4 linked regions of the Homo sapiens genome follow. The protein of the gene in region 3 interacts with the protein of the main gene of each other region in a biochemical or structural test. Each region holds a gene or a part of one and is shown on either strand. Other genes may lie near its edges.

Region 1 (8,753 bases), on a different chromosome or scaffold from region 3:
AGGCATCCACTTGAACATATCCCTCTGTGGATAAGGGGGGTACTACTGTAGTCAGTTCTCAGACCTCTTGTTTTATCTCATCAATATTTTATACAGTTGATCATGCCCTCCTCCTTTAAACACTTTCTTCATTTGGCTTCCAGGCGTTACACTCTTCTGATTTTCGTCCTTCTCACTGGTCGCTCTTTTCAGTCTCTTGATGGTTTTTTTTCATCTGCTCAGCCTCCTACTATTGGAGTTCTCCAGGGCTGAATCTATGGATCTCCTTTGTTTTCTTCTCCACACTCACTCCATTAGTGATATTACTTGGTTTCATGGCTCTAAATAAAACTATATGTTGATAGTCACATTTATATCAACCTAGACCTTTCCTCTGAATTCCAAACTTACATGTCTTAACTGCCTTCTGAAATTTCACTTGAATGTTAAGAGGCATCTCACACTTGATGAATTCCAAACTGAGTTACTGATCTTTTCCTTTCAAACCCATTCCTTTTCAAAGTCTTTCCCATGTTGGTTAATGGCAACTGCATTATTCTTATTATGCAGATCAGAAACTTTGGAATCATCCTTCATTTTTCTCATTCTCTTTTACTTCACATCCAGTACACCAGCTAATTCTGTTAACCTCTATCTTTAAAAAAATCTTAGAATCTGATTACCTTTTTTTTTTTTACCTCTACTGTTACCCTATCATTCCAAATTACCATGATATCTTTCCAAAATGTTCTGATTTAAAAGTGAATTAGAATATATCACTATTCTACCCAAATCCTCCAATGCTTTAGTTCTCACGTGTAGTGTAAGCTAAAATCAGTTCATGACCTGTGAGTTCTTACACAATTTTGTTCCTTACATTACCTCTCCAACCTCAGTTCTGCTTTGCTCCCCCTTGGTCATATTGTTGTTCTTCTTATTGTTCTCCAAGTGCTCTAGGCACACTTCTACCTCACTGTTTTTGTAGTGACTGTTCCTATGTCTGAAAATGCTTTTTCCCATGGGACTTATTTGCATGTCTTATTCTCTTACTTTCTTTGGATATTGACTTCAGTGTCATCTTTCCAATAAGCCTTTCCTGGCCATGCTATTTAAAATGGTATCCTCTTCCCTCTAACACATTTCTTAAATTTTTAAAATTTTTACTCTCTTGTGGACATACGCAATCCAACACGTTTCTTCATTTTATTTTCCTTCAGTGTACTTACCACCATTTAGCTTACTGATTTTTAACTGTATTTGTATTTATTTTATGTTATTTTGTCTCTCCTCAGTAGAATGTAGGATTTAAAAGGTCAAGAGTTTTTTTTCTATTTTGCTCACTGCTGAATACCTGATACCTAGAATAATGCCTGGCACAGAGTAGACCTAATAAAATATCTGAATGAATGGATTAATAAATAAAAAGCAGGTTTAAAAAAAAACTTGAGCATGTTTAAAAAGAAACAAACTTAAGCATGTTTAAGTGGTTTGGGTACGGATCCTGTAGAGAGGAAGAGGCTGACAGTCTAAGAGAAAGGAAATAAATAACAGAGGATCAAGATCCCTAAGGAGGTAGAAGGGTATGGGCTCCAGAGCACAAGTAGAGAGATGAACATTTGATGGGAGAATGGAAGGGATGAAAAGATGTATAATAATACAAATAACTTAGCTTTGGTAGGGATAAGTTGATGTAGTTTCTGTCTAATGGCTTTATTTTTTCTCTGAAATGGGAGGTGGTAGTATAGGTACTGGATGGTAGTCTTGGGAATTACAGAAAAGTGTAGTTTTGAAATGATCCTTGTGGAGAAAAGGAAAGGAAACTAGAGAAACAAATATTATCTGGCAATATTGAGGTTTAGCTAGGGATTGTAACCATAAATTTACAGTGGCGTCATTTTCCATATAATATTCTTCTTTATAAAGCTTTTCCAAGGAATCAAAGAATGTTGGCTATAGCAGATTCATAATGTTTATTGCTATTATCATAAATTATTTTTTATTTTAAAAAGTTCTAGTCCTTTAGCCAGGTCTGTTGTCTTCATAGAACATTGTTCTGTTACCCATAAAAGATGCCATTAAGACTGTGGCCTGGGCCGGGCGCAGTGGCTCACGCCTGTAATCCCAGCACTTTGGGAGGCCGAGGCGGGTGGATCACGAGGTCAGGAGATCAACACCATCCTGGCTAACATGGTGAAACCCCATCTCTCCTAAAAATACAAAAAAAAAAAAAAAAAAAATTAGCTGGGCGTGGTGGCGGGTGCCTGTAGTCCCAGCTACTCAGGGGGCTGAGGCAGGAGAATGGCGTGAACCCTGGAGACAGAGCTTGTAGTGAGCCAAGATCGCGCCACTGCACTCCAGCCTGGGTGACAGAGCGAGACTCCGTCTCAAAAAAAGAAAAAAAAAAAGATTGTGGTCTGAGCATACTCCACACTTTGAACATGTCTACAGATCATACTTAGGTATTGTAAAATACCTAATTTGACAAATGAGTTTTAGTAATTTTATAACTTGGCCATATTTTTTATAAAATCATATAGGAAGACTTTGTTTTATATCTTACAAAAATTTTGTGTTAAATAAATAGATTTAGACATAGTTTTACTTCTTCAAGTTGCCAGTTGGGTTAATTTAAAAACATACTTGCATAGAAGACTTGAAAGCATTTGTATTTGTTTTCTTTTTTAGGGGCAAAAAGGCCCCGAGTCACTTCAGGTGGTGTGTCAGAGTCTCCCAGTGGATTTTCTAAGCACATTCAATCCAATTTGGACTTCTCTCCAGTAAACAGTGCTTCTAGGTAAGACTGATAAAGATTGAGTAGTTTTTGATTGTAGTATTCCCCATGAAGAATAATACATGTATGTGTTTTTTCATAATAATCGACATTAACATAATACTGTAAGCATGAGAACTTGTGTGTGATATAAGAAAGGCCTGATAGATTTTATTTTATTAAATGTATGTTTCTTTCTGTCTTAATGCCTCAGTGAAGAAAATGTGAAGTACTCCAGTTCTCAGCCAGAACCCCGCACAGGTCTTTCCTTATGGGATACCAGCCCCTCATACATTGATAAATTGGTACAAGGGATCAGCTTTTCCCAGCCCACATGTCCTGATCATATGCTTTTGAATAGTCAGTTACTTGGCACCCCAGGATCCTCACAGGTGAGGGAATTTAATTTTTTAAAAGTAATGGCAGCTCTTTATTTTTTATTGTCTTAAAGTCCTTTTTTAATGTGTAAATCTTAGATATATAACTTTTAAATCACATGTATTCTTTTTTGGTCAAGGAAGAAAGAGAGGAGGGAGGCCTTCATGCAAAATAATTTTAAGTCAGACTAAATAGCTATGATATTACTGTCTTTAGTCCTAATGGATTTATTCATTTGTCTTCTGTTTGACATGTAGAACCCCTGGCAGCGGTTGGTCAAAAGAATGACACGATTCTTTACCAAATTGGATGCAGACAAATCTTATCAATGCCTGAAAGAGACTTGTGAGAAGTTGGGCTATCAATGGAAGAAAAGTTGTATGAATCAGGTGTGTTTCATTGATTTTCATTATACCTTTTCCTGAAGAAGAATTTAAATATTTGAGTAAAAGCTATCATTAGTATATTTTTTAAATATAGGCTGTGGCTCACACCTGTAATCCCAGCTTTTTGGGAGGCTGGGGTGGGCGGATCACCTGAGGTCAGGGGTTCGAGACCAGCCTGGCCAACATGGTAAGACCCTGTCTCTACTAAAAGCACAAAAATTAGCCGGCCTGGTGGTGCATGGCTGTAATCCCAGCTTCTCGGGAGGCTGAGGCACGAGAATTGCTTGAACCTGGAAGACGGAAGTTGCAGTGAGCCGAGATCCTGCCAGTGCACTCCTGCGTGGCCAACAGAGTGAGACTGTCTCAAAGAAAACCAAACAAACATAAAAATACAAAGTAATTAGTTAATTTGAAAAAGAAACTATTTAAGTAAAATGTTCTTTACTTTAAGAAATAATACTTTTTTTTATTTTGTTTTATTTTTTAATTTTTAATTTTTAGCCACTGTGCCTGGCCTAAGAAATAATATTTCTTAAAAGACCTTTTTATTGTTATTAAAAATAGTAGGGAGCTGGAATCATTATCTTTGTAAAAACTATGTATACTTAAACTGTAGACAATAACAGTTGACTGCCTACTATGAAAGACGAATACATTAGCAATCCCACACTTTCTCCCATCTCCCTTGATTGCACCCGTCAATTTTTATTGTTTATATTATTAGAGCATAGTTATAACATTGGTATTCTAAACTGTCTTTAAGGCTTTTCAAAAAAAATGTTAATGTCAATGAAAGACAAATAGGGTAGCTGTTTTTTACTCAAGGAGACTAAAGAGGCCTGATAACTAAGTGCAAGTGCAATGCATGATCTTTCACTAGATCATGTATTTGAAAAAAACTATAACGGACATTATTGGAACAATTGGGGAAATTTGAATATGGACTGTATATTAATTAGGTAATGTTTTTGTATCAGCGTCAGATTTCTTGGGTGTGATAATACTGTGGTTTGTAGGAGAATGCCCTTGTTCAAAGGAGAACAAGTGTCAAAGCAAAGTTGAAGTGAAGTGATATTTTCATTCAGCTTAAAATTTAAAAAAATAAAGGGCAAACAACTACATAAAGGCCAATAAACACACACATATCTGGTAGATAAGGCCAATGAAGAGTATATGGTTATTTATTATACTCTTTTTTCAGTTTTTCTGTAGATTCGAGTTTTCAAAATTAAAAATTGGGGGAACTGTTACTGTGTAGAAATCTGAGGTCAGCCTGATAGTCTTCTCACTCACATAGGTGATTCACTTTCTTTCAGGTAGACTCAGAGATAAAATTTGCATAACATAAGAATCATCACTTTAACCATTTTAAAATGTAAAATGCAGTGCTTTTTAGTATATTCACAAGGTTGTGCAACCATCGCCCCTAATTCCAGAACATTGCATCACCACGGGGAAAAAAAAACAAAACACCTCTGTACCACCTAGAATCACTCTTTATTCCTTTCTTGCTCCATTCCCAGACAACCTCGAATCTACTTTCTGTCTTTAGGGATTGCCTTTTTGGACATTTTATATAAATGGAATCATATAACATGTAGTCCTTTGGGTCTGTCTGCTTTCATTTAGCACGTTTTCAAGGTTCATAGCATCTATCAGTACTTTATTCCTTTTTATGGCTGAATAATATTCTGTTGTGTGTATGTATTACATTTCGTTTATCCATTCATCCACTCATGGACATTTGGGTTGTTTCTACTTTTTCATCATTATGAATAATACTGCTGTGAACAATCTTGTACCAGTTTTTGTGTGACCATATGTTTTCAATTTCTTAGATATATATGGAGGAATAGAATTGTTGGAGCATATGGTAACTCTTCATTTAACTTTTTGAGAAACTGTGAAATGATTTTTCCAAAGCACCTGTACCATTTTACGTTCCCATCAGTAATGTAAGAGGGTTCCAATTTCTCTACAACCTTGCCAACACTTACTGCCTCCCCTTTTTGCTATGGCCATCCTAGTGTGTATGAAGTCTTATCTCATTTTGCTTTTGATTTTCATCTCTCTAAAGACTAATGATCTTGAGCATATTCTTATATGCTTATTGGCCATTTCTTTATAACAGTATCCGGATATTTTGTCCATGCTTTAACTGGCTTGTTTTTATTGTTGAGTTGTTAGAGTTCTTTTACATTCTGGACACTAGAACCTTGTCAGGTACCTGATTTGCAAATATTTTATCCCATTCTGTGGGAGAAAATTCCCCCATTCTTTTGTTTTCTTGTTAGTGTCGTTTGATGTACTCAAGTTTTAGATTTTGATGAATTCCAGTGGATCTATAATTTCTCTTTTGTTGCCTATGCTTTTAGTGTCAAATTTAAGAAACTGTTGCCTGATGTAAGATTGTAAAGATTTATACTTTATGCTTTCTTTTAGGAGTCCCAGCCTCCTAAGTAGCGGGGACTACAGTCTTAAAGTTTAGCTCTTATATTTAGGTCTTTGTCCATTTTGAGTTAATATTTGTATATAGTATGATGTAGGGTGCAAATTCAAATGTTTGTATGTGAATATTCAGATTCCAGCACCATTTGTTGAAGATATGTTTTACTATTAGATGGTCTTGGCACCTTTGTTGAAAATAAATAGGTCATAGATGTATGGGTTTATTTCTGGAATCTCAATTCTTTTTTTTTCCTTTTTTTTTTCTTCCCCTGTGGACTCAATTCTTTTATTTCATGGATCTATATGTCTGTGCTATGCCGTTACCACACTATGTTGATTACTGTAGCTTTATAGTGAATTTTGACATTAGAAAATATGAGTTGTCCAAGTTTGTTCTTTTTTTCAAGGTATTTTGGTTATTTGTGGCCCCTTGTTTTTCTGTCTTTTAGGATTATCTTATTTCTGCAAGAAAAAAATTTGGAATTTTAAAAGAGATTACATTGGGGAGTATTTCCATTTTAGTATATATTGAGTATTCTTTATTCAAGGTGCTTGGGACCAAAAGTTTTGTGGATTTTACATTTGTTTGGATTTTGGAATATTTGCATATGCATATTGAGATAACTTACAGATGGGACTCAAGTTGAAACATGAATAATTTTATTTATGCTTCATATATACCTGATACAGATAGCCTGAAGGTAATTTTATACAATGTTTTAAATAATTTTGTGCATGAAACAAAGTTTGTACATTGAACTATCAGAAAGCAAACCTGTCAGGTATGAAATTTTCAGTTTGTCACATGATGTCAGCACCTGAAAAGTTTTGGAGTTTGGAACATTTTGGATTTCAGATTTGAGATTAAGGATGCTAAACCTCTAATAGTAACTCTTCTAATCCAATAACATGGGGCCTTTTTTTTCCCATTTTTTTAGGGTCTTTAATTTCTTTCAAGAATATTTTGTAGTTTTCAGTGTTCAAGTCTTGCACTTCCTAGGTTAAATGTAATCCTGTTTATTCTTTTTTTTTTTATCCTGATGCTGATGTAAATGGAATTTTTTAAAATTTTATTTTCAAATTGTTCATTGCTATATGCAAATGAATTTTGTATATTGATCTTGTATCCTGAAAATTTGCTGAATTCATTAACTCCAGTAGTTTTTTTGACAAATTCTTTAGGTTTTTTAATATATTAAGATTACATTATTTGGCAGGGCGTGGTGGCTCACGCCTGTAATCCCAGCACTTTGGGAGGCCGTTGCGGGTGGATCATGAGGTCAAGCGTTTGAGACCTGCCTGGCCCACATAGTGAAACCCCGTCTCTACTAAAAATACAAAAAATTAGCTGGGCGTGGTTGCGGGCACCGGTAATCCCAGCTACTCGGGAGGCTGAGGCCGGAGAATCACTTGAACCTGGGAGGCGGAGGTTGCAGTGAGCCGAGATGACGCCACTGCACTCCAGCCTGGGCGACAGATCAAGACTCCGTCTCAAAAAAAAAAAAATTACATTGTTTATCAATAGAGATACAGGAAATTGTTTTACTTTTTTTTTTTTTTTTAACCCAGATGCCTTTTAATTCTTTTTGTTTAGTTGTCCTGGCTAGGACTTCCAACATTATGTTGAACAGAAATAGAGTCTTTGTCTTGTTCTTGATCTTAGGGTTAAGTTTCGAGTCTTTCAGCATTAAGTATGATGTTAGCTGTGGGGTTTTTGTTTTTATGGTGAAAGAGTATTGGATTTTGTCAAATGTTTTCTCCGTCTATTGAGATAATCATGTGGATTTTTTTTCCCTTTATTAATATAGCTTGACCTCCTGTGCCCAAGTGATCCTCTCATCTCAGCCTCCTAAGTAGCTGGGACTACAGGTGTACACTATCATACCCAGCTAACTTTTTAAAAATGTTTTTGTAGAGATGCAGTCTCTGTGTTTACCAGGCTGGCCTTGACCTTCTGGGCTCAAGTGATCCTCCTGAGTAGTGGGTACTACAGGTGTGCACCACCATGCCCAGCTAAATTGACAGTTTTCATCAGTCTGTTTATTTTGTCTAATGTTAGTATATCCACATCAGCTCACCAGCTATCTTGTGTATTTTCCTTTTTTTAGATGGAGTCTCACTATGTTGCCTAGGCTAGACTGTAGTGGCTACTTAAAGGCACGATCATAGTGCAATGCAGCCTCAAATTCCTGGGCTCAAGTGACCCTCCTGCCTTGGCCTCCCAAGTAGGTGGGACTGCAGGCATGTACCACCATACCCAGCTACCAGCTCTCTTTTGGTTATTGTTTCCATGGTCTATTTTTTTTTTCCTTTTCCTTTTAACCTATTTGTGTCTTTGAATCTAAAGTGCCTTAGCCAGGTGTCATGGCTGACACCTGTAATTCCAGCACTTTAGGAGGCTGAGGTGGGTAGATCACTTGAGGCCAGGAGTTTGAGACCAGCCTGGCCAACATGGTGAAACCCCATCTCTACTAAAAATATTTTAAAAATTAGTTGGGCGTTGTGGTGTGCACCTGTAATGCCAGCTATTGGGGAGGCTTTAGGTGGGAGGATAGTCTGAGCCATTGGAGATCAAGGCTGCAGTGAGTCGTGATCTGATTGCATGACTGCTCTCCAGCCTGGGTGACAGAGCAAGACTGTCTCAAAAAAAAAAAAAAATCGCTTCTTAGCCTTTTGGCTAAGATCAAGTGTAGTATCTATTCCTATCAGTTTAAGTGCCTTAATTTCTCTTCCACTTTTTGGACAGGTAGTTTTGCTGGATATAGAATTCTTATTAGCTTTTGTCTTTCAGC
Region 2 (4,284 bases), on a different chromosome or scaffold from region 3:
TAAGGCCACTTTGATAACATAATTCATTACTCAGCACATACCATTTTACTGGTCTTAAGAAATGATCATTTTTTCTCAATTCAAAATGTTATTTTTACTATGATTTTTATTTAAAAAGTAGTGTCCTGATTTAAATTTTGGGATACCAGAGTCCTACTGAATTCTGCCTTTTCATTTCCCCTTAGAAAACAAGTATAGGTCGGGCGTGGTGGCTCATGCCTGTAATCCTAGCATTTTGGGAAGCTCAGGCAGGTGGATCACCTGAGGTCAGGAGTTCAAGACCAGCCTGGCCAACATGGTGAAACCCCGTCTCTACTAAAAATAAAAAAAATTAGCCGGGTGTGGTGGCGGGTGCCTGTAATCCCAGCTACTCGGGAGGCTGAGGCAGGAGAATCTGTTGAACCCAGAAGGCGGAGGTTGTGGTGAGCCAAGATCGCACCACTGCACTCTTAGCCTGGGCAACAGAGTGAAACTCTGTCTCAAAAAAAAAAAAAAAAAAAAAAAAGGGAAAAAAGAAAAGAAAAGAAAACAACTATAAATGAAGCCTTGTTTCATATTCACATTTTAGGATCAAGAAGAATCCTACATAGCTATTTTTTCAGATTATCTTCTGACTTAAAAATCAGTTCTCAAGTCATTCAGTCTCAGTTATTTTACTAATCTGAGATTGGTTAGTAAAATAATAGCTATTGTGATACTATAAAACCAAAATTATTTTGAACTCACTAATAGTAAGATTGAATGTTTACAAACAGAAGCATAGAGTCCCCAACTTAATTTTTTGACTTTACAATGGTGTGGAAATGACAGGCATTCAGTAGAAAGCATACTTCAAGTACCTATACAATCAATGGTTTTCACTTTCAGTGTTCAACAAATTACCTGAGAGATCCAACGCTTTAGTATAAAGTAGGCTTCATGTTCTTTGATTTTGCCCAACTGTAGGGCTAAGTGTTCTGGGCACATTTAATGTAGGATAGGTTAAGCTATAATGTTCATTAGGTCAGGTGTATTCAGTGCAGTTTTGACTTCGTATTTTCAACTTGCAATGGGTTTATCAGGGTGTAGCCCCATTTTAAGTTGAGGAGTATCTGTGTCTGAACTCTTACATTCCTTTTGAATATCCACTGAAGCACAATTCTAATAACAGCCAAGGCACTCACAATCACATAATTAACTTTGCTAGTTTTAAAATGTCCACTTTATTCCATATAACACTTAACCAGATATCATTTACATCTGAGGAAGAGATGGCCCATGAGACTGATCTATAGTAAAACACTCTAAGAAATGCAGTCCAATTTTATACACTTCCAGGCATCCCTAGACAAGTGTGTCACAATGCACAATGTGGAAATATAGGTATCACTACTACATTTTACATAAAAGGGAAGTATCAATAAACTTTAGAAAGTAGTAAATTCACCTGTCCCTTAAAATATGGGTATGCAATTGTTACAAAGCCATAGTAAATGGTTTATAAAATGTACTTTTATTTTATGTTACTCTGCTGTTACATAGGGCATAACATTTTCACAAGGCTTTTTTGGGACTACAGTCAATGATTAGCAACACACAATAGTGGTCCAACTCTCTAAATAACAATCACTAGACAAACTGGACACCCTCTCACATGTGCACAAATCTGCATGGAAAAGTACTAAAGTTTTAGACTTGGACTTGTGTACTTTAATTTATTTCCCCTTTCTAGTGTATTAAGAAATGACATGCACTTTAATTTGCCAAAAGCAATGCTTGTATTCTGGCAGCAACATGCTACTTCTATCACATAGTAAAGTGAATACCAGAACTACAAAGGCAGGAGGTGTAAGTGAATTTTTATTGGGAGGGGAGGTTGGCAACTTAAACAGCAGCAAATAAAGAGTGAATAAGGAAACTCCCTGTTGCCACAGATACACAAGACCTCCGTATGTGATACAGGAGCCATTTCAATTTGTGACCCCTAGACAGAGATGGCAAGTGCTTTTCCATTCAATCTAATACTTCCGGATTCCTACTAAAAAGGAATACATTAAGAGCATGGAAAAGTTGCTTACTGAAAGGAAACCCCCGAAGAGTAAGGGAGGGAATGTAGAAATTAAGAAGTTATGTGGAATACTCTTTAAATTGTAATTAACTACATTTTCTTATTTTCACAGTAATACAAAACACAGTCACTTGCAGAACTGGTTCAGATTACTTAAATACCAGATACATTTTTAGTCCTCTACATAAGTGTTTGGGAGTTACTTATGTTTATATGAAATGAAGCTATTAATACTTTTCTACAGCAGTACTGCACACCAGGAAGGCCAAGACAAACACAAATCAAGGAATGAAGTTTTCCCAAAGCTGCAGTGTGAAAAGACTATAAACAGTTGATTCCATACACATGAATGGGTTTCTTTGCTATAGGAAATCCAAGTGGAATAAGGAATGGAGATGTGTAAAAAGGTTTCTTGAAGGAAAGAAGGATGACACCCTGTATGGATTTAGTTTTCAGCCCCTTCTGCCGCATCACATTCTTCTCCTGCACTGTCTGATGTCCAAAGCTAGAAAAAGAAGAATCATATTAAGTTACTATTTCTAGATTAGGCAATTACACTAAGTAGTATTGTTATATCAAAATTAACTACAAGAGTAGTAAATTCCTCAAACAATGGAGATCTTGACTAAGACTGAAGTTCTCTCTCAAAACCCCAAAGACCATCACCTTCCCAAAGTACATCCTTGCAGACCTTTCACTATGCACTTACAAAATGACATACATACATACATACATATACCACTGGAGCATGGTTTTATAGCTTCCTTTTTATTTAAAAAGCATTTGGCCAGGCACAGTGGCTCACGCCTGTAATCTCAGCACGTAGGGAGGCCAAGATGAGAAGATCGCATGAGGCCAGGAGTTCAACAGCCTGGACAACATAGCAAGATCCCACGTCTACAAAAAATTTCAAAAACAAAATTGGCCAGGTACGGGGTGGTGTGTGCCTACAGTCCTAACTACTCAGGAGGCTGAGGCAGGAGGACTGCTTGAATCCAGGAGGTTGAGGCTGGAGTGATCCATGATTATGACACTGCACTCCAGCCTAGGCAACAGGGTGAGATCCTTTCTCAAAAAAAAAAAAAAAAAAGAGAAACTTTTTTAAAAAGGCACTCTACTTTCAGAATAAGCAAAGTGATAGTCTCTATTCCCAGCAGCCCAATGCTCTTCTTGAAAGCACTACTGCATTATTATTACAGACTAATAAAGCAAAACATTTTCACAGGGAGGAAAAAGCCACAATCATGGTTAACAATTTTCAAGTGTGTGAAGGGCTAAACTATAGGAAAAGCAGACTTACTTTGTGTTTCTCCAAGAATTAAATAGAAGTGGGTGATGGAAGCTACAGGGAAGCAATGTGTGCATGTATAGACAGGGTTCTTGAATTAGACAGAATGTTAAAACTAAGTGGATCTTCCAGGATCTCTCTGATTTTAGGATAGGAAGATGAAGTGAAGAAGAGAAGTCAGTATTTATTGACTATAATTGCACTTTATTAGACCAACAGCAAGACATTAGTGTTAATTTCAGAAAAGCCAGAATCTTACATAATCCTTAGATTATTATGAAGATACTAAATAAAAACAAACAAAACAAAATCCCCCAAAGACCTGTCTCCATAATAGAGATAACAAAACAAAACCGATTAAAAGATAGTTAGCTCCAAGGTATACATCTGGGAAGAGGTATAACTGCCTAATTTGCTCTTCCTCTGTAGAACTATTTGCTGATCATCTTCCATTGTCCCCTCACAACCACAGGCACTTCTCATGGCTAGAAATGCAGGGTCTTCGTTCCCCTTTCAGTGGATTCATAATTACCCTATTCAGCAAAATTGAATAGACATGGTGCTAATATTTAAAAAATCCTATCTAGTAAATGATAAAGCACCAAACTAGGGGGCTGGGAGGACGAGATCTATATTAAAAGATTTGTTCCCTTCTTTTTCCTTCTGTGAAGTCTAAGATTTTACCTATCAAATTTACTTGAACCTACAAAAGAATGTTAAAGTAAAGCTTAAGCTGTACTTTTTCTTGATTACTTCCTTTATCAATTGCCTATCTAAGAAGCAGGGAGAAAAAGACAAACAAAACAGAAGCTTTTGCCTAGAAGCAGAGAAGGAGTAAGTTTAGGTATAGGTTTACTCCCTAAATGCTTGTAGAACATCATGCACAATTCACAAAGTAAACTTTTATTAGAACAAGGTACTTCCTGTGATTTTAAGAAAGCGTAGATAT
Region 3 (8,753 bases):
TTTTGTCCCCAGTAGCCCCCAGCATCACATTATGTGTGGGCACTGCAGCCTTGACCTCCTGGCCTCAAGTGATCTGCCTGCCTCGGCCTCCCAAAATGCGGGGATTACAAGCATGAGCCACTGCGGCTGGCCTCAGGCACACTTTTTATGCACCCATTTCATCTTGCAAATCAATCTGAACCACAAGTTTTTGGAGTCAGAGCTTCTTGAGGAAATGTGGCCATCCCAAACACTAATTTTAGTTAATGTGGTCCCAGGACCTTAAAGGGAAATGTAATTCTCCTTAAATCCATCAAGAACTAGGCAGAGAGCATGGGTTCAAGATCTTTTATTTTCAGAGCTTCCAACAGTTGGTTAGTAATGCTAGCTAAGCTGGTATAATCTGAAGGCCATCCCACCTTTCTCTTTAGGCAGTCAACCAACAGAATCTCTTTCTTACAAACAATATCATTAACCAGTTGGAATCTGTCTCAATGCGCGTGTAGGAAGAAGTCCTCTCCCCCACATTTTTCCCAACAAGATTGTTTTATAGCCAAATGTAACTCAAACCCGTAACACAGCAACTAGCCATCTCCAGTATCACTGATTCCCACCCCAAGAAGTTGAGGTAAGAGGGGAGAGACTGTCTCCTGTTTAAGAAAAACCCACCTACACCTCAGTGAAGCCGTGATGGTAAGGAGGCTGGCACCAGAGGGCAGGGATGAGTAGGCACTGAAACAGGTCTCTCTAGAATCAATGAAGTCTGCCCCAGCTCCTTGGATGAGGTGTTCTTTTGAAATTCCCACTTTTATGGAGTTAGATAAGGGGACAACCGGTGATGATTCATCACTCCCTGTCTCTAAAATTAAAACATGATAAACCCAGAAAGTTTTACCTTCAAAATCCACCAAGCTCCCTCCTGAGAAAATTCTATCCAGTCATGTCCATGCCAGCACCCACTCCCTTCTCCTAATGCCCAGGGCTTCCAGCCCCTCTCCTCACCCTTGGGTGGTCCATCCAACACTGATTTGATACTCTTTGACTCATAATATGACCATTTTTTAAAAATTAGAAAATAAAAGCTATCAATATCACAGCAACATAAGGAAGATACTCAGTGGACATGCTCCTCCCCCATCCTGTGGAGCCCACCTACCCCCACCCCCCTTCCCTGGGAAACCTACACTGCAACATTCCAGCACTGAGCCGGGGGTGGCCCAACAGATGCTGCCTCAAGTGCTTTCCTGACTGTGGCTCCTATACCAGCCAATGTCATGGAACTGGGGTGAGGAAGAACAGGGCCACACCTCCCACCAAATAGATATCGGTAGCCAGTGGTGGGTCTGGGAGATTTAGCTTATGTCAGGCAGCCAAGCCTGGGTCCAACGCTCTCACCAGGACCTCAGTTCTTGGCTTAAATAGCAGCAGCCCCAGTACCACAGCGCCTCCTGGGGGTGACAGAGCACCTAGCTTTCTGTCCGATAACTTATAACAGGTTTGCATTTTCTTACCCACTTCTTTTTTTTTTTTAAATTAAAAGCCGAGGTAGTCCCTGGGATAATAAAACCCTACCTAGAATGGCAGTATTTCAACCTAATGAAGCAGTAAAATAAGTCTCCAGGAGTTAGAAAAAAAAATAAAATAAAGTGATTGATGAAGTTGAATAAATTAAACATATGGATTATCCCACAAAGACCTTTCCTTCCCAGGTTGTCTTTGCTATTTGGCCAGCAGCATTTCTGTGTAACTTCTCTACTCCCCTCCGTCTCCTCTCCCCTCATGAGATGGCTGGAGCCCGATAAGGCCCCGGCTGGTTCATCCCACTGTGGCTCAGAGCAGCTTGACACGGTGCTCAGAACTGCATTGTGGCACAGTTCTGATATGGACGGAGGACGTCTAACAGGGACAGAAGAGGCGTAGCCAGCAAGATGCCCTGGGCTCCAACCTTGGGAGTGTGGGAGGTAGGTTTAAGGCATGGAAGTCCCAGGCCCCCTCTCCAAATGTCACACAGCTGTCCCCTTTGCTTAAGTTTCTCTGCAGCAAAGAGGGTAAAGGGGGATGGAGGGAAGCTTGGGCTGCTGCTGGCTGGTCCTGCCGCCCTCAGAGCTTCTTCAGACGACTGTACATCTCCCTCTTGCTCTTCTCCCCTGCCCAGGTCCGGCTCTTGGTGCGGAACTTCTTCAGGTCTTCTTTAAAGTCCTCGTGGTGCATGGGCCGGTAGCTAGGGGGCTCACAGTAAGACTGAGGGGACAGGAGAGAATAAGGTTAGGGTACACCTGCCTCACACCCACAACCTGGTTTCCTCTCTGCCTAGGGCTACAAGGCTGAAAGCGGCCAGGCAGACCTAGGGAGCCAGTTCTACAGGGGCTTTCTTTGGGTTCAGCAGATACCCACCTTGTCCCCCGACCCCTGGAAAGAAAGTCATGACCACCAGACAGATCCATTAGTCTACCACTGGGGGCAGGGGAGGAGAGATGCTCTCCACAACCCCAGTCTTACCTGGCATTTCATAAAGAACTCCTTGTATCCCCCCTTCAGGACATACAGCTCAGGGTAGTGGAGTTTGGGGTATTCATTACCCAGGCGATCTCTCTCTCTCACATACCGGCACCTAGTCAGGGGAAGGAAGGCCAAAGCAGGGTTAGCTTTTCCAGCACAGCAACAAGGCAACGCAGTCAAAGCAGCAGTTGTGGTCTAAGTCCCCCTTATACACATCTTCCCAACTTGACATTTATTCTTAGAAACAATCAGTGCTGAGTTGCAAGTTCCTGGCCACATGAGCAGCACTCACAGCCAGTGCCAGTAGATGGTCTCTTCCCCAATTTTCCTTTCTCCAACAATCCTAGCATCTGAGTCCTGCCCAGCACCTTCACCACCACAGTTTGTGGCAAGTTTTCACTATATGAGCCAGCTTCCCCTTGCTTTCTCCACCCCAGCCTTCTCTTCAGCCAGGCTCCCTCACTCACCTCCTTCTACATAAGTGGGCTTGTTTCTTTCTGTGGCTTTTAAAGAGGCTGAACTTGCTCCTGCCTCGGGGCCCTGTTTCTATCCTCTACTTGGACTGAATGGTCTTCAATATCCAGCCAATGGCTGCTTACTGCCTCGCCCTTGGTGAAAAAGCCCGAGGCCCCAAGTCCTTCAGAGGCCTACAGCTCTACAGGCCCCTACTGCTGCTCTGCCCCTTGTTCACCCCACGCCAGCCCCTGCAGCCCCACTACTGTTCCTCCAGCCTGCCTGGGAGCTCCACCACTGGCCTTATTTTCCTCTGAAGCACCTTCTTTTTTCTGAGACAGAATCTCACTCTGTCACCAGGCTGGAGTGCAAGGGCGTGACCTCAGGCTCACTGCAATCTCCGTCTCCCGGGTTCAAGCAATTCTCCTGCCTCAGCCTCCCAAATAGCTGGGACTACAGGCGCGTGCCACCGCCCAGCTGATTTTTGTATGTTTAGTAGAGATGGGGCTTCACCATGTTGGCCAGGATGGTCTCGACCTCTTGACCTTGTGATCCACCTGCCTTGGCCTCCCAAAGTGTTGGGATTACAGGAGTTAGCCACCGCACCCAGTCACCTTTTTTTTTTTTTTTTTGAGATGGAGTCTCACTCTGTCGCCCAGGCTGGAGTGCACTGGCGCGATCTCGGCTCACTGCAACCTCTGCCTCCTGGGTTCAAGGGATGCTCCTGCCTCAGCCTCCAAAGTAGCTGGGATTACAGGTGTCCGCCACCACGCCTGGCTAATTTTTGTATTTTTAGTAGAGACGGGATTTCACCATGTTGGCCAGGCTGGTCTCGATCTCCTGTCCACTCCGAAATGTAAGTTCCATGAAGGCAGAGATTTTTTGGTCTGTTTTGTTCACTGCTCTTCTCCCTCAGTATCTAGAAAGGTATCTGGTACACAAGAGCCAAGAGTATCTGCTGATTTTCTCTTGAAGCTCAGTGGTTTGGGGCCTTTGTTAGCTGCTCATGAGGGATGGGCAGCAGCTTCCTCTGCAGCACGTAGCTTAAACCATTTGCCTGTGGTTAAAAGGAGTTTGGCTGGGCGCGGTGGCTCACACCTGTAATTCCAGCACTTTGGGAGGCTGAGGCGGTGGATCACGAGGTCAGGAGTTCGAGACCAGCCTGGCCAAGATAGTGAAACCCTGTGTCTACTAAAACTACAAAAAATTAGCTGGGCGTGGTGGCAGGTGCCTGTAATCCCAGCTACTTGGGAGGCTGAGGCAGAGAAATGCTTGAACCCGGGAGGAGGAGGCTGCAGTGAGCCGAGATTGTGCCACTGCATTCCAGCCTGGGCGAAAGGGCGAGATTCCAACTCAAAAAAAAAAAAAAAAAAAAAAAAGAGTTCACCTGTGAATCCCAAATCTTTCCCCAGTGGAACAACAGAAAGCCAGTGATGGCGAAACTCAAGTGGGGAACGAAGTGTAAGGGGTATCTGTAGATGGTGATATAAACATGCAGCTTGCAAATACAGAATACAGAGATGGGGCGTTTTCTGTATATCTAGGTGAAGTTTCAATATGGTATAATAATGTCCTTTATATTAGAGGTGTTAAAGAGGAAGATGGGGAAATGAGAGATTAAGAGAATAGCATCTTTTGGGCTGGGCATGGCGGCTCACACCTGTAATCCAAGCACTTTGGGAGGCCAGGATTGCCTGAGCCCAGGAGTTTGAGACCAGCCTGGGCAACACAGTGAGACCCTGTCTCTATAAAAAATACAAAAATTAGCCAGGCATGGTGATGCATGTTTGTGGTCCTAGCTTCCTGGGAGGCTGAGGTGGGAGAATCACTTGAGCCTGGGAGGCAGAGGCTACAGTGAGCTGTGCTCCTGCCACTGTACTCCAGCCTGGACAACAGAGACTGACCCTGACTCAAAAATAAAAAAAAAAGAGAGCAGCATCTTTTGTGGGTTTAAAAACAATTTACATGTGTGTGTATGTGTGTCCAGATTAGTTTGTTTCAGGCCTATAATCCCAGCACTTTGGGAGGCTGAGGCGGGTAGATCACTTGAGGTCAGGAGTTCGAGACCAGCCTGGCCAATGTAGCAAAACCCCGTCTCTACTAAAAATACAAACATTAGCTTGGCATGGTGGCATGCACCCGTAGTCCCAGCTACTTGGGAGCCTGAGGCAGGAGAATTGCTTGAACCCGGGAGGTGGAGGTTGCAGTGATCCGAGATCGCACCACTGCACTCCAGTCTGGGTGGCAGAGCAAGACTACATCTCAAACAAACAAACAAAAAAACTGCTGAGTGAATAATTCCATTCATGAATGAGCATCCTTTGGAGACAGATGTTTGAAGGACTTATGAGATGACAGTCAAAAGTGTCAAGTTGTACTGTAGTTGCCTGTGTGTAGAGCATGTACATACAAATGTGACAAAATGTTAAAAATTAATAAAATCAGGTGAAGTGTGTGCAAGTATAACCTTTGTGTGTGTGTGTGTGTGTGTGTGTGTGTGTGAGAGAGAGACAGAATCTCACTCTGTCACCTAGGCTGGAGTACAGTGGCATGATCATGGCTCACCACAGCCTCGACCTGCTGGGCTCAAACGATCCTCCCACCTCCTATTTTTTGTAGAGGTGTGGTCCCACTGTGTTACCCAGGTTGGTCTGGTCTGAAACTCCCGAGCAAGTGATCCTCCTGCCTCGGCCTCCCAAAGTGTTGGGATTACAGGTGCCACTGTGCCCAGCCATAACCTCACCTCTTCTTGAGCTTTAAAATGGTTCAGGTCAGGCGCAGTGGCTCACGCCTGTAATCCAAGCACTTTGGGAGGCCGAGACGGGCAGATCGCAAGGTCAGGAGATGGAGACCATCCTGGCTAAAATGGTGAAACCCTGTCTCTACTAAAAATACAAAAAAATTAGCCAGGCGTGATGGTGGGCACCTGTAGTCCCAGCTACTCGGGAGGCTGAGGCAGGAGAATGGCATGAACCCAGGAGGCGGAGCTTGCAGTAAGTCGAGATTGTGCCACTGCACTCCAGCCTGGGTGACAGAGCGAGACTCCGTCTCAAAAAAAAAAAAAGGTTCAAAGGGGTGGGCACAGTGGCTCATGCCTGCAATCCTAGCACTTTGGAGGCCAAGGAGAGAGGATTGCTTGAGGCCAGGAGTTTGAGACCAACCTGGCCAATATATTAAGACCCCATCTCAAAATTTGAAATTTCTGCTGGGCGTGGTGGCTCACACCTGTAATCCCAGCACTTTGGGAGGTCAAGGCGGGTGGATCACCTGAGGTCAGGAGTTCAAGACCAGCCCGGCCAACATGGTGAAACCCCCATCTCTACTACAAATACAAAAATTAGCCGGGTGTGGTGGTGCACGCCTGTTATCCCAGCTACTCAGGAGGCTGAGGCAGGAGAATCGCTTGAACCCAGGAGGTGGAGGTTGCAGTGAGCCGAGATCATGCCACTGCATTCCAGTCTGGGTGAAAACAGTGTGCCTCCGCCTCAAAAAAAAAAAAAAAAAAGAAAGAAAGAAAGAAAGAAAAAGCCAGGTGCAGTGGCTCACGCCTGTAATCCCACTACTTTGGGAGGCTGAGGCAGGCGGATCACCTAAGGTCGGGAGTTCAAGACCAGCCTGACCAACATGTAGAAACCCTGCCTCTACTAAAAATACAAAATTAGCCGGGCGTGATGGCGCATGCCTGTAATCCCAGCTACTTGGGAGGCTGAGGCAGGAGAACTGCTTGAACCTGGGAGGCAGAGGTTGCAGTGAGAAGAGATTGTGCCACTGCACTCCAGCCTGGGCAACAAGAGCAAAACTCCGTCAAAAAAAAAAAATTGAAATTTTTTAATTTAAAAATGTTTTTTAAAATAAATTGGTTCAAAATAAAAAGGTGGCATAAGAACGTGGTCCTGCAGAAGTCTCCCTTGGACCATCCTAGTTAAGCTGCACTCTCTGTCCTACCTCTCTGCCTGTCCTCCTAGCATTTATACGGATCCCCACTTGGATCTCTGCTGCAGTAGGGTCCTTGTTGGTCCTGCTCGCTGTGGTATTTTTACTGTACTGTGTTTTACTGTAGTTACATTTTTATTGTCAGTGCCTGACAAACAGCAGGCTTGCAATCCTTTTAGAATGGACACAGATGACTGATGGGCAGCTCTTTGGCCCCCTTTTTTCTTTTCACCCTGAAATTGGTAATAATATCAAGTGTTTCAAAGCATCATATCATATGAGGTTTTACAGAATGAGAACTTCACACTTTTCTGGCATTTGCATAAGGAACGGTCACTTTGTACTTGAAGGAGGTCACATGAGAACAGTAGCCCCACAGATCAGACTAAGGACAGTCGGGGAGACTGGAAGAGCCAAAGTTCACCTCAGGATAAAATTACATATGAAAATGGCTTGTTATGTGCCAGAGGTTGCTTGATATGCTAAAATATGCTCCAAGTGCAAGCCACAAACCACCATGTCCCACAAAAGCATCATGGAGCCTGTGCCCCAGAACCCAGTTCCGTGCAGCACTCACATGCGGGGACCTCTCTCAGAAGAAAACTCGCAGTGAAACACAACAATGACACGCTTGCCATCAGTAGGTACAATGGGCTTCTTCAATAAGAAGTCTTCAACCTCTTCTTCCATGTGCAAGTTCACTGCACCCTGTGAAGACAACAGAGACCCTTGGAACCTGCACGTTTCACACATGAAGTAATGATTCAGCAAGATGTAATGATTCATCAAGAGTGATCTTTAAGTCCACAAGACCAGTTTGTGATTTTTGCAGTTCTTCTAGCTGAATAGCCCAGTAGACCATTTGGCACCTGTATCTCAATGGAGCTTTGTGGGTCCGTACACGTTCATCATACAGTAATGCACATGGGGACTGGAAATGGGCAATTCAAATATGACAATGGTACACTTTATAGGTAGTTTTATAAATTTGGGGATTTTCAAAAGCCACAAGACAATGGCAAACAGTAACATCGTATTTAAAGTACCTCCTTACTATATTTAAACACTATTAATCGGGTAAAACATTAAAATGGCAGGCCAGGCGCCGTGGCTCATGCCTGTAATCCTAGCACTTTGGGAGGCTGAGGCGGGCGGTTTGCCTGAGCTCAGGAGTTTGAGACCAGCCCGGGCAACATGGTGAAACCCCGTCTCTACTAAAAAAAAAAAAAAATTAGCCGGGCGTGGCAGCGTGCACCTGTAGTCCCAGCTACTTGGAAGGCTGAGGCAGGAGAATTGCTTGAACCCAGGAGGCAGAGGTTGTGGTGATCCGAGATCATGCCACTGCACTCCAGCCTGGCGACAGAGCGGACTCTGTCTCAAAAAAAAAAAAAAAAAAAGATTAAAATGGCAAAATCAGTTCCTTTCTTCTTGGGAACGTGTGTCCCAACACGCCCCTCCACCAGGCAGCTTGCTGAACAATCAACTTTGGAGGCATCACTAGGCCTGGCACAGACACCAGGACATGTTGCCAGAGATGGTCTTCTCCTCATCAGGAGCCCTGGGGTGCTCAGACATTGGTACCCAAGCCTCTTAAATGCTATGAAACCCATTCTTGTCCCCCGAATGACTTAAACATCAGTGGGTACCTCCTACAAGTGTCCTTGATAATGATGGTGTGAGGGACAAACATGAAGAATAACTGTGCACAAGGTGGTAGAGAGTATTGCAGACAAGGGAACATTCGTTAAGAGCACCCGGAATCAAATGCCTTCCACACTCACTGTATTGTTTCAAAATTCTAACAACTAGCATATGAGCTAAGTGGCCAGGTGTCACTGTCCTCCCCACTTTAAAACCACAGATCCTGTTTAGGGCTCCTTCTACAGCAA
Region 4 (9,408 bases), on a different chromosome or scaffold from region 3:
GCCTTGTCTTCCAAAAGTGCTGGGATTACAAGCCTGAGCCACCGCACCTGGCATTTTTTTTTTTTTTTAAAGCAGAGACCACCAGCCTGGCCAACCTGGTGAAACCCCGTCTCTACTAAAAATACAAAAATTAGCCGGGTGTGGTAGCGGGCGCCTGTAATCCCAACTACTCGGGAGGCTGAAGCAGGAGAATCACTTGAACCTGGGAGGCGGAGGTTGCAGGGAGCCGAGCTCGCGCCATTGCTCTCCAGCCTGGGTGACGGAGCAAGACTCTGTCCCCCCCCCAAAAAAAAAAAAAAAAAAGCAGAGACCATTAACATTGACTAAAGAACAAAATAGACAACTGGGGTCACTATAAATGAAAGTGGAAACTCGGGCTGTAAGTGCTACCTCGAAGACACAGCACATGGTGGCGACCACAACACATTGGCCGCCTTCAGAGGAAGCCCAAGCACTTTCAGTTAGAAGAGCAAAGCCAGATAAAGCTCTTCCCCACCCAATGTACAAAGAATTGGGCATGCAAATTATCCATGACAGCTCCTGCCAACAGCTGTGCGAGCAAGGCTGCTTCCTTTCAGTTCTAGTACCATGTGCGGGTGGCATTTCCTTAACTCAAAAAGGGTCACATTACAACCGCTGTAAGTTGTTCTTCATTCAGGAAGAATGAATTCTAGTCTTGAAGGCATAATGCTGGGTGCCACCCTCTACAGCCAGATGGCTGGCACATCTGAGAGCAGGCCTTTGGACATAGATGAGTCCAGCAGCAGTTCCCAAACTAGGTGAACCATCAGCAGACAAATGGTTTCCAAAGTTGGCCTTTTTAGGGACCAGTGGATGAGGTAGAATAATTAAGTCTATGTCCTTGAGTGTACACCAAGTTTCAAAGCAAGATCTGTCTGACTTTATTTAGGAAAGAATGAGATAACAATAAGAGACCCACGGGATTCCTAACCACTCCAACTCCTCATACCACTTTTTTCCTTACATAGGATTATTTTCTGAAAAGTAACAGTCCAGGATTCCACTTCAATAGAAAGATTGAGTCTTGTGCAAAAAAATTAAACAACAAAATGGACGTGTTAAGTAGATCTTAGATAAAAGGGTATTCTTTTCATTAAGAACAGCCTAAGATGAAAATTAAAAAGCTTCCATGTGGTCTCGATGAAGCAGTTACACAAGAGTTTGGCACAATGGCTCCAAGTAGCTCAAGACTGTCGTACTGGGGGGAATTATGATAACTCCAGAGAAAAATTCTGTATGTGAGCAGGGAAAAAGGTTCTGTTGTACCCCCAAGTTCTAGTTTCATGAAGCTCCACAAAGAAATAACAAAGATACTGCTCCATACATAGACAGCTAATGTTTAAGCTATCTACTCTACAAAACGTATAGAAATCTGTCGCCATTAATCTCTGGATAACCACGAAAATGCCTTCTAGTGGGAAATGGTATGGCTATTCCGGCAGCACAGCTATCCACACTGTGGCCAGGGGACAGAGCCACAATCCGTCCCAGGAGGCACCCTCGTCACTGCTCAGGCTATCCTTGAGAACAGACATGCTTCTAAAACTCCAAGAATGCAACAGGGACGGCCCTGCTTCATCTTCAGCTGGAAGTTTCTTTTCTATTCAAAACACAGCTGGGAAAATAAACAGTCCTGAATTTCACAAAGTCAGAATTCATTTTATAATACCTAAAAAATCAACTTGCTTGATTTGAATGTACTTTAAGGGAAGAAAAAAAAAACTGGGGATATGCCGTCTCATTTCCGTCTCTGAAATGATTTCTTTGAATGAAAAAGGAAATCAGCAACCCTTTCTTCAATAGTCAGTGGACCCTCCTCAGAAATGCTTATTTCGGGGGACCTTACATGCAGTGACAACTGCTATTTAGAACACGGCGCACTGCGTTGAAACCCTTCACGCTTCCAGATGAACTACCCTGGCTGCTGCTCTGCAAAGTGAGGGGCTTCTCTGCTAACCTAGCTGGGATCCCTGCACTCAGGTCGAACACTGTTTCTGTTCAGCGTTTATCTGTGATAGAGTCAGAAGGCCTGACCAGCTAGTTTAGAGATAGGCTGCTTCCCCCACTGGAGCCATAACTACAGTCTCCAGCCATTTCTGAAAGTAAAGAGATAGTACAAGCTTTTTCTGCAAGAAACTTCTGATATTATAATGATTATCACACTGCATGCAGGAAATTTGGCAGGAACTCCTTAAGGAGAGAAAAGAAAAGCAGTCAAAAAAAAATGTATTGAGACACCACCTATCATTACACTGAATGTTCCACTGATACTCTTGCTGAGGTCAGGCTGAGCTGGGGATCAATGCAGGTAATTGCTGGAGGGGCTATAAGAACTTCCAGGGCCAGAAAGAGGAGAAGAATTTGAAATCTGACCTACAGAAGACGGAGGAGGTCCTTAAACACCATGACAAGAAAAATAGGTGTAGATAGGGGGAAAGTTGTTGCTTATAAACACCCAGGAACCCTCCCCCAGTTCACCAGCTTTTACAGACAAGGCCGAGAGCCCAACTTTGCCCCTGGATGGCACAGGACTCTGGGTTACTTTCTTCCTCTAACTGAGTCTCAGTTTCCTCCTGGGCAGAAGGGGAGGACTGAATACTGTGATGTCCATTCTGGTTCTTCCAGGCTAGGCACATATCTGTAATCTCAGACGGTGCCAGTCAGGAACACCAAGCTTCCTGGAATCCCAGGACTGGCAGAGGCCAGTGCCCACTGACAGGTACAGTGCTGGGCCATATGGGCTGTGGCTGCATTAGAGAAGTTCACTCTCACCAGAGTGTCTCCAGCAAGAGACAAGACAGCATGAAACCCCATGTGACCCAGGGGGAGAAGGACCTCCACAGAGGCCCAACCCCGGGCGGACCTACCTGGCTCCCACACTGGTCCCTCGCCGTCCTGTCGATTTTGGCCATTTCTTCATCTGGATCCTGCAAAAACTAACATGAAGCCACCCCCATGACCCCAAGGAAACACACCAAACAAGACAAAAACAGAGAGAAGAAGAGAAAGCTGATCAGGTTATGAGCTCCGTTCCTGCCCAAGGGACCCCCGCCCCCGTAGGCAGAGCCAAGTCGGGTACCCAGGTGAGATGGGGGGGATGCTCCCCAACCTGTCTCTTTTGTACTCACAACGGTCACGTTTGCCTTCCTCTTCCTGGAGCGAGCCGAGAACTCCGCGCCGCCGTCCTCCTTCATGGTGTCCCGCTCCTTCGCATCCCTGTGGACCCGGGTGGCACCGGGCCGGGTGAGCACCCGCGGCCGCCCCTCCCCCACGCCACCCGTCCCGTCCCGTCCCGTCCCGTCCGGCCCCGCGGCGCGGGCACTCACCGCTCCCTGCGCTCCCTCGGCATGATGGGGCTGCTCCGGCCTGAGGCCTGCGGGGCGGCGCGGGGTGAGGCGGCGGCGGGGTCAGGCCGCGGGCCCAGTACCCCTTCCCCCTTTGCGCGCGGGCGGCCGGGCGAGCCAGGAAGATGGCCGATGGCGGGGTGGCCTGTCACCCGCGACCCGGGCACCCGCCGACCCCCGACCCGGGGTCCCGCCGCCCCCGCCGCCCTCACCGGCCCGTCGCCTCCCGGGGCCCGGGCTGCCTCAGTGTCCCCTCCACCCCACCCCGCCGCGCTCTCAGCACCCTCCCGGGCGCCCCGCGACGCCGCCCGGGGACCCGCGACCCGGCCGCACCCCGCCCCCACCCAGCTCCCCGGCGCGGTCTGGGCCCCAGGAGTCCCTGTCCGCAGCCCGCGGCAGTAGACTCACCAGGGTCTTGTCCGCGGCGGACGGCGCGCTCCAGTCCCGGCAGGCGGCGGCGGCGACGGCAGTGGCGGCGGCGGCGCCGGGAGTCGGCGGGCCGAGCGCGCGGCGGTGGCGGGATCCGCGCCTGCCCCCTACACCGCGCTGGCGGCCGCGCCGGCTGCTCCTGCGCCCGGCTCAGAGCGGGACATTTAAAATCCCTGCGCGCGGAACCGGCCCCGGCCCGCCCTCGCACCGCCCCGCCGCGGCTCCCAGCCCCTCAGCGGCCGCGCGGGACCCAGAGCCCGTCCCGCCCCGTCCCTCGCCCCGCCCCCGGACCCGCCCCTCCACGGCGCCGGCCCGCGAGGCGCAGGGACGGGGAATCAGGGGCGGGGCCGGCGGACAGGGCGGGGCCAAGTGACAGGGCCTGCGCGCCGAGGGCCGGGCGCGGGGCGCGGGGCGCGGGACGCGGGGCGGGGCGGCGGGCGGGACGCGGGAGAAGTCTGGCGCGCGGCGGCGAGGGGCGGGCCGCGGGCGCCGGGGGCGGGGCCGAGCGGCGCTGGAGCGGCAAAAAGCCGCGTGGCTGGCGCGGGTGGAATGTAAACACGGCGGGCGGCGCGGGTTCGGGCCCCGGCAGGGCTGAGCCAAGGGGATGTGTGGGGGGCCTACCCGAGGAGCACCGCCCGCCGTTCCTCCGCGCGCGCTGTCCCGCCAGGCACGCCCTCCCCGCCCCCGAGACGCCGAGTTCCGGGCCCTGAGTCCTGGGCGGGGACATCCCCAAGGTCACCGCGCCTGTGCCTTGGCCTAGAACCAAGGCTTCAGGCCGCGGGGTCTGGGGCTCCCTGGGGGCCGGCTGCTATTCCTGGCCGCCTGTCCATTCATCCGTCAGTGCATTGGGTCGTTCATTCATTCATTCAAGGAATCTGTGAGTTCCTTCCATGCGCCCCTTCCATATGCGCCCCTCCCCCGCAAGCCCTTCCTGGCTCTCTGAAGACCTTTCTGACTCTGGGATTCCCTTGCACCCCATCTCTCACTTAAAGCCTTCCAGTTGAGGCCGGGCGCGGTGGCTCACGCCTTTAATCCCAGCATTGTGGGAGGCCGAGACGGCTGATCCCTTGGGGTGTTCGAGACCAGCCTGGGTAACAGTGAGACCCCCATTTCTACAGAAAAAGAAACAAAAAGCCTTCCAGTTGTTTCGCATAAGGGTCAAATCCACACTCCGTGTCCTAGGCTACAGGCTCCACAGGACCTGACCCTGATCCCCCACCCTCAGACCTCAGGCCTCCTCTCCACAGCTCCTCTGTCCTTTCTCCCTCAAGACTTGTATTTTTTATTGTGGCGGGGGGTGGGGGGTGGCAGGTAGGGATAGGGTCTTGCTATGTTGCTCAGGCTGGTCTCAAACCCATGAGCTCAAGCGATCCTCCCGCCTTGGCCTCCCAAAGTGCTGGGAGCCCAGCCCCTACACAGTCTTGGTGCCTCTCTGTTTCTTGTCTCTCTCCCCACCTTGCCCATCTTGCTCACTGCTGTATCTGTCAGTTCTTGGCATAGTGCCTGGACCAAGGGAGACACTTAAATTGTTTCTGAATGAACATTTGAAAGACAGGCACTGGCCAAGCCCTTGCAGGGCTTACCGGCTAATGAGAGAGACAGGTAAGGAACAGTCATCACCTCAGAGTACCCTCTGTACTCAGCTTCAGGAAGATGTGCGTAAAAGAAGGCTCTGGAATGCTCCCAGGGCCCTTCTTAAGCTAAAGTCTCAGTCCTGTCCCTCACCCTCCCCTAGTGACCGTTTTCTTGAAGTTAGAGCCAGGGTCTTATCAAAGAGGCTCACAAATTCATGATTCCCCCAGGTGCTCTGAGGCCAAGGCTGCTGGGCTACTTGCTCAGCAGGGACCCAGGCACCTGAACCCCCCATCCTGTGCCCGTTAGGAATCACCAGTAACAGGTATCATAAACAGTGTTTCCAAAATGGCAGCACTGGGCTAAGTCCTTCAAAGTATCATCTCAATTAAACTTCACAATAATCCTATTCATGTTGATGCCACAATTATCCTGTTTCACAGATGGCAACTATCTACTCCCAAGGATCATTGTGAAGATTGAGATAATGTAGCTGACTCCTGTACAGTACCTGGCACACAGTAAATGCTCACTAAATGAGTTATTATAATGATGGTAGACAAGACAGTTTTCCTTAGTCATTACAGCAATGTATACACCCACCAGCAAAGATAGAGCCCAAATCCTCCACATCCTAGCTGACATGTTCATCAAGAATAGAATGGATACATAAATGTTGTTATATTAATTCAATGGAATACCACACAGCAATAAAAAGGACAAACCAAGGAATCATGCAGCAACATGAGAATTTCAGAGACAACATGTTGAGCCCAAGAAGCCAGACACACTTATTTGAAGTTTCCATTTATTTGAAGTTTAAGAAAAGACAGCAGTCACCGTAACAGTATTTACCCCTAGGGTGAGGAGTAATGACCGGGAGGAGACCAGGGGAAACTTCTAGGGGCTAGACATGTATGCTTTGATCTGAGTGGTGGTTTCATGACTGTATACATACATAAAAGCTCATTGATTGATACATACATAAAAGTTCACACCTAGGATTTGTGCACTTTACTGAATGTATCTTTTACTCAATAAAAATTAAATAATAATAATAATTATTATTTATTTTTTAGACAGAGTGTCGTCCAGACTAGAGTGCAATGACGCGATCTCAGCTCACTGTAACCTCTGCCTCCTGGGTTCAAGTGATTCTCCTACCTCAGTCTCCCGAGCGGCTGGGATTATAGGCATGCGCCACCTCGCCCAGCTAATTTTTGTATTTTTAGTAGAGACGGGGTTTCACCATGTTGGCCAGGATGGTCTCCATCTCTTGACCTCGTGATCCGCCCGCCTTGGCCTCCCAAAGTGCTGGGATTTCAGGAGTGAGCCACTGTGCCCGGCCTTATTATTATTGTTGTTATTATTATTATTATTTGAGACGGAGTTTAGCTCTTGTTGCCCAGGCTGGAGTGTGATGACGCTATCTCAGCTCACTGCAACCTCCGCCTCCCAGGTTCAATCGATTCTGCTGCCTGAGCCTCCCAAGTAGCTGAGATTATAGGCGCCTGCCACCACGCCCGGCTAATTTTTGTATTTTTAATAGAGACAGTGTTTCACTATGTTGGCCAGGCTGATCTCAAACTCCTGGCCTCAAGTGATTCTCCCTCCTTGGCCTCCCAAAGTGCTGGGATTACAGGTGTGAACCTCTGCGCCCAGCCAATAATTATTATTATTATTTTTTAATTCAAGACATAGCAAAGCAAGACACAATCCCTGCCCTCTTGGGAGCTTCCGGTGTGGAAGGGAGGCTGTCATGCATTTGCAGTGTAGCATGATAGGGCTGGGAAGGGAAGAGTCTTGGGGCTATGACTTCATGTGGAGAAGGATGTATCCAACCCATCCTTGGATGGCAAGAAGTTTGCATGAAGAAAATGGCATGTAAGCCAGAAGGATGAACACATTTAATAGGAACAATAGAAAAGTTGTGTCCAAGATGGCAGACACAGCCTATACAGCAGCTTGGAGTCTTCAGAAACCACTGATGTCTTTTGTTTTCATTTTTATTTTTTTTGAGACGGAATTTTGCTCTTTTTGCTCAGGCTGGAGTGCAATGGCGCGATCTCAGCTCACTGCAACTTCCGCCTCCTGGGTTCAAGCGATTCTCCTGCCTCAGCCTACCAAGTAGCTGGGATTACAGGCATGTGCCATCATGCCTGGCTAATTTTGTATTTTTAGTAAAGATGGAGTTTCACCATGTTGGCCAGGCTGGTCTCAAACTCCCGACCTCAGGTGATCCGCCCACCTGGGCCTCCCAAAGTACTGGGATTATAGGCATGAGCCACCGCACCCGGCCCAATGTCCGCCTTTCTAGGGCAGCTCACCTTTGGGTGTTTGGGTTCATTCCATTCTGTGCTTGCCTCAAGTCCAGAGCTCCCGAGCATTGGCCCAGCCTTGAGGGAGACTGTGGATTGCATCAGAGGTGGTGAACCAGCTGCTGTGTAGGGAGGGCAACACCTCCCCTTTGCTATGAGACTTTGGGAAGGTTCTCCAACCTCTCTGTGCTTTAATCTTCTCATCTGTAAAATGGGTATAATTCTAATTGTCCCAACGTCATGGGGTTGCGGTGAGGGGTAAATGTATTAATACCCCTCAAGTGTTTTCAACAGTATCTGGCACAAGGTAACTGCTCAATTTGTGTTGTTATTACTCATAAAGAGATTTGGGGGTTATTTGCTTAGCTTCCTATATGGTTCAGGCTCTGATGATGGAGGACGGGCACCAGGACATAAAGGTTAAGGAGAAGGAAGACCAAGGGATTGCAAGGGGGAAGTCCTTCCCAGATAGGATTCCTTAACATGGGATCCCTGGACAGCCTTTGGAGACCCAGGAGCCTGCCTACTGTTGGGCCCATGTGCATTTCCCCAGGCAGCTGGAGCCTAACTTCTACCAGGTCCTCAAAGGCGTCTTAGCGGACAATTAAAGAGCCCCGCTGCTAGCAAAGGTTGATCAGGGAAGGTGTGGGCTGTGGCTGGCAGTGGAGCTGGCTAAGGCCTTGCTGTGGGGCCAAGCTGGACATCTGTGGCCACCTGGATGAGCCAGTTATCTTGTGAGGCTACACATGGAAATACTAGAAGAGGAGGGGGCCACACTATACCAGTGTGAGCTGTGAAGTGGGAGCCGGGCAAGATGAACAGGACCAGGCTGTCAACCACAGAGTGTCTGCGGCCCAGCGCCAGGGAACGTGAGCATGGGAAAGCCCTGGAGGCTTGGCTCCTGTCCTCCCTGGGCGGGACAATCTGCCTGCACAGGCCCCCCAGCCAGCCAGGCAAGGGCCCAACCCATGCTCCCCAAGGCTTGGTTCCTGCTCAGAACCAGCGCACACTGCTGTGTAAAGCCACCAAGGTGGGAAGGATGAAAACCAGTGAAAGGGTGCTTCTGTCCCGGCCTAACCTCCTCTTACATTGGGGAGCAAGCCTAGCCATCGCTTCTTCAGATGGAGGCTGTGACCAATGAAAACTTCCAGGGAAAATTAAAATTGGCCTTTTAACTTAGTGTATGATAGGATAATGATGGCAGCTGACATTTTTGGATTCTGTATTAACTTCAGGGTTGTAAGGAGTAGAGACAGGGTGGGCAGTGGGCACAGTGGCTCACACCTGTAATCCTAGCACTTTGGGAGGCCGAAGTGGGAGGATCTTTTGAGCCCAGGAGTTTGACACCAGCCTGGGCTACAAAGCAAGACCCCCATCTCTACAAAAAAATAGAAAAATAAGCCAGGCATGGTGGTGCACGCCTGTAGTCCCAGCTACTCTGGAGGCGAAGGCAGGAGGATCACTGCAGGTCAAGGATGCAGTGAGCTGTGATCTCACCACTGCAGTCCATCCCGGGTGACACAGCAAGCCCCTGTCTCTGGAAAAAAAAAAAAAAAAAAAAAGGGCAGAGACTAATTTGAAGATGCTTGAAAGAGTGGGAGTGTGTGATGAGGTTGGGGAGGTGGGGGTGGCTGGGCAGATACGCAGCAGGAAGCTACCCTCTCAGCACCAGTTAACACACAAGAGTGTTCTGTTCTGTGTCTGACTGCCATACCCTCAGCTTT

The links.
Region 1: of the proteins of CDC25A (region 3) and CHEK1, one has a biochemical effect on the other in vitro, tested with the Homo sapiens proteins (7 studies listed by BioGRID and IntAct, with this or other methods).
Region 2: the proteins of CDC25A (region 3) and YWHAQ form a complex in vitro, tested with the Homo sapiens proteins (2 studies listed by BioGRID, with this or other methods).
Region 4: the proteins of CDC25A (region 3) and CCNE1 form a complex in vitro, tested with the Homo sapiens proteins (2 studies listed by BioGRID).

What each region holds. Positions count from the first base shown.
Region 1 is NC_000011.10:125,641,128-125,649,880, forward strand, and holds part of CHEK1 (serine/threonine-protein kinase Chk1), read left to right. Parts: intron 1-2,664; coding exon 2,665-2,773; intron 2,774-2,963; coding exon 2,964-3,141; intron 3,142-3,384; coding exon 3,385-3,516; intron 3,517-8,753. UniProt on the Homo sapiens protein: Serine/threonine-protein kinase which is required for checkpoint-mediated cell cycle arrest and activation of DNA repair in response to the presence of DNA damage or unreplicated DNA.
Region 2 is NC_000002.12:9,582,794-9,587,077, forward strand, and holds the end of YWHAQ (14-3-3 protein theta), read right to left. Parts: intron 2,553-4,284; coding exon 2,493-2,552; 3' UTR 1,174-2,492; downstream 1-1,173. UniProt on the Homo sapiens protein: Adapter protein implicated in the regulation of a large spectrum of both general and specialized signaling pathways. Binds to a large number of partners, usually by recognition of a phosphoserine or phosphothreonine motif.
Region 3 is NC_000003.12:48,156,866-48,165,618, forward strand, and holds the end of CDC25A (M-phase inducer phosphatase 1), read right to left. Parts: intron 7,573-8,753; coding exon 7,442-7,572; intron 2,591-7,441; coding exon 2,479-2,590; intron 2,221-2,478; coding exon 2,080-2,220; 3' UTR 281-2,079; downstream 1-280. UniProt on the Homo sapiens protein: Tyrosine protein phosphatase which functions as a dosage-dependent inducer of mitotic progression. Directly dephosphorylates CDK1 and stimulates its kinase activity. Also dephosphorylates CDK2 in complex with cyclin-E, in vitro.
Region 4 is NC_000019.10:29,806,518-29,815,925, reverse strand, and holds the start of CCNE1 (G1/S-specific cyclin-E1), read right to left. Parts: upstream 3,936-9,408; 5' UTR 3,774-3,935; intron 3,395-3,773; 5' UTR 3,371-3,394; coding exon 3,348-3,370; intron 3,238-3,347; coding exon 3,150-3,237; intron 2,958-3,149; coding exon 2,889-2,957; intron 1-2,888. UniProt on the Homo sapiens protein: Essential for the control of the cell cycle at the G1/S (start) transition.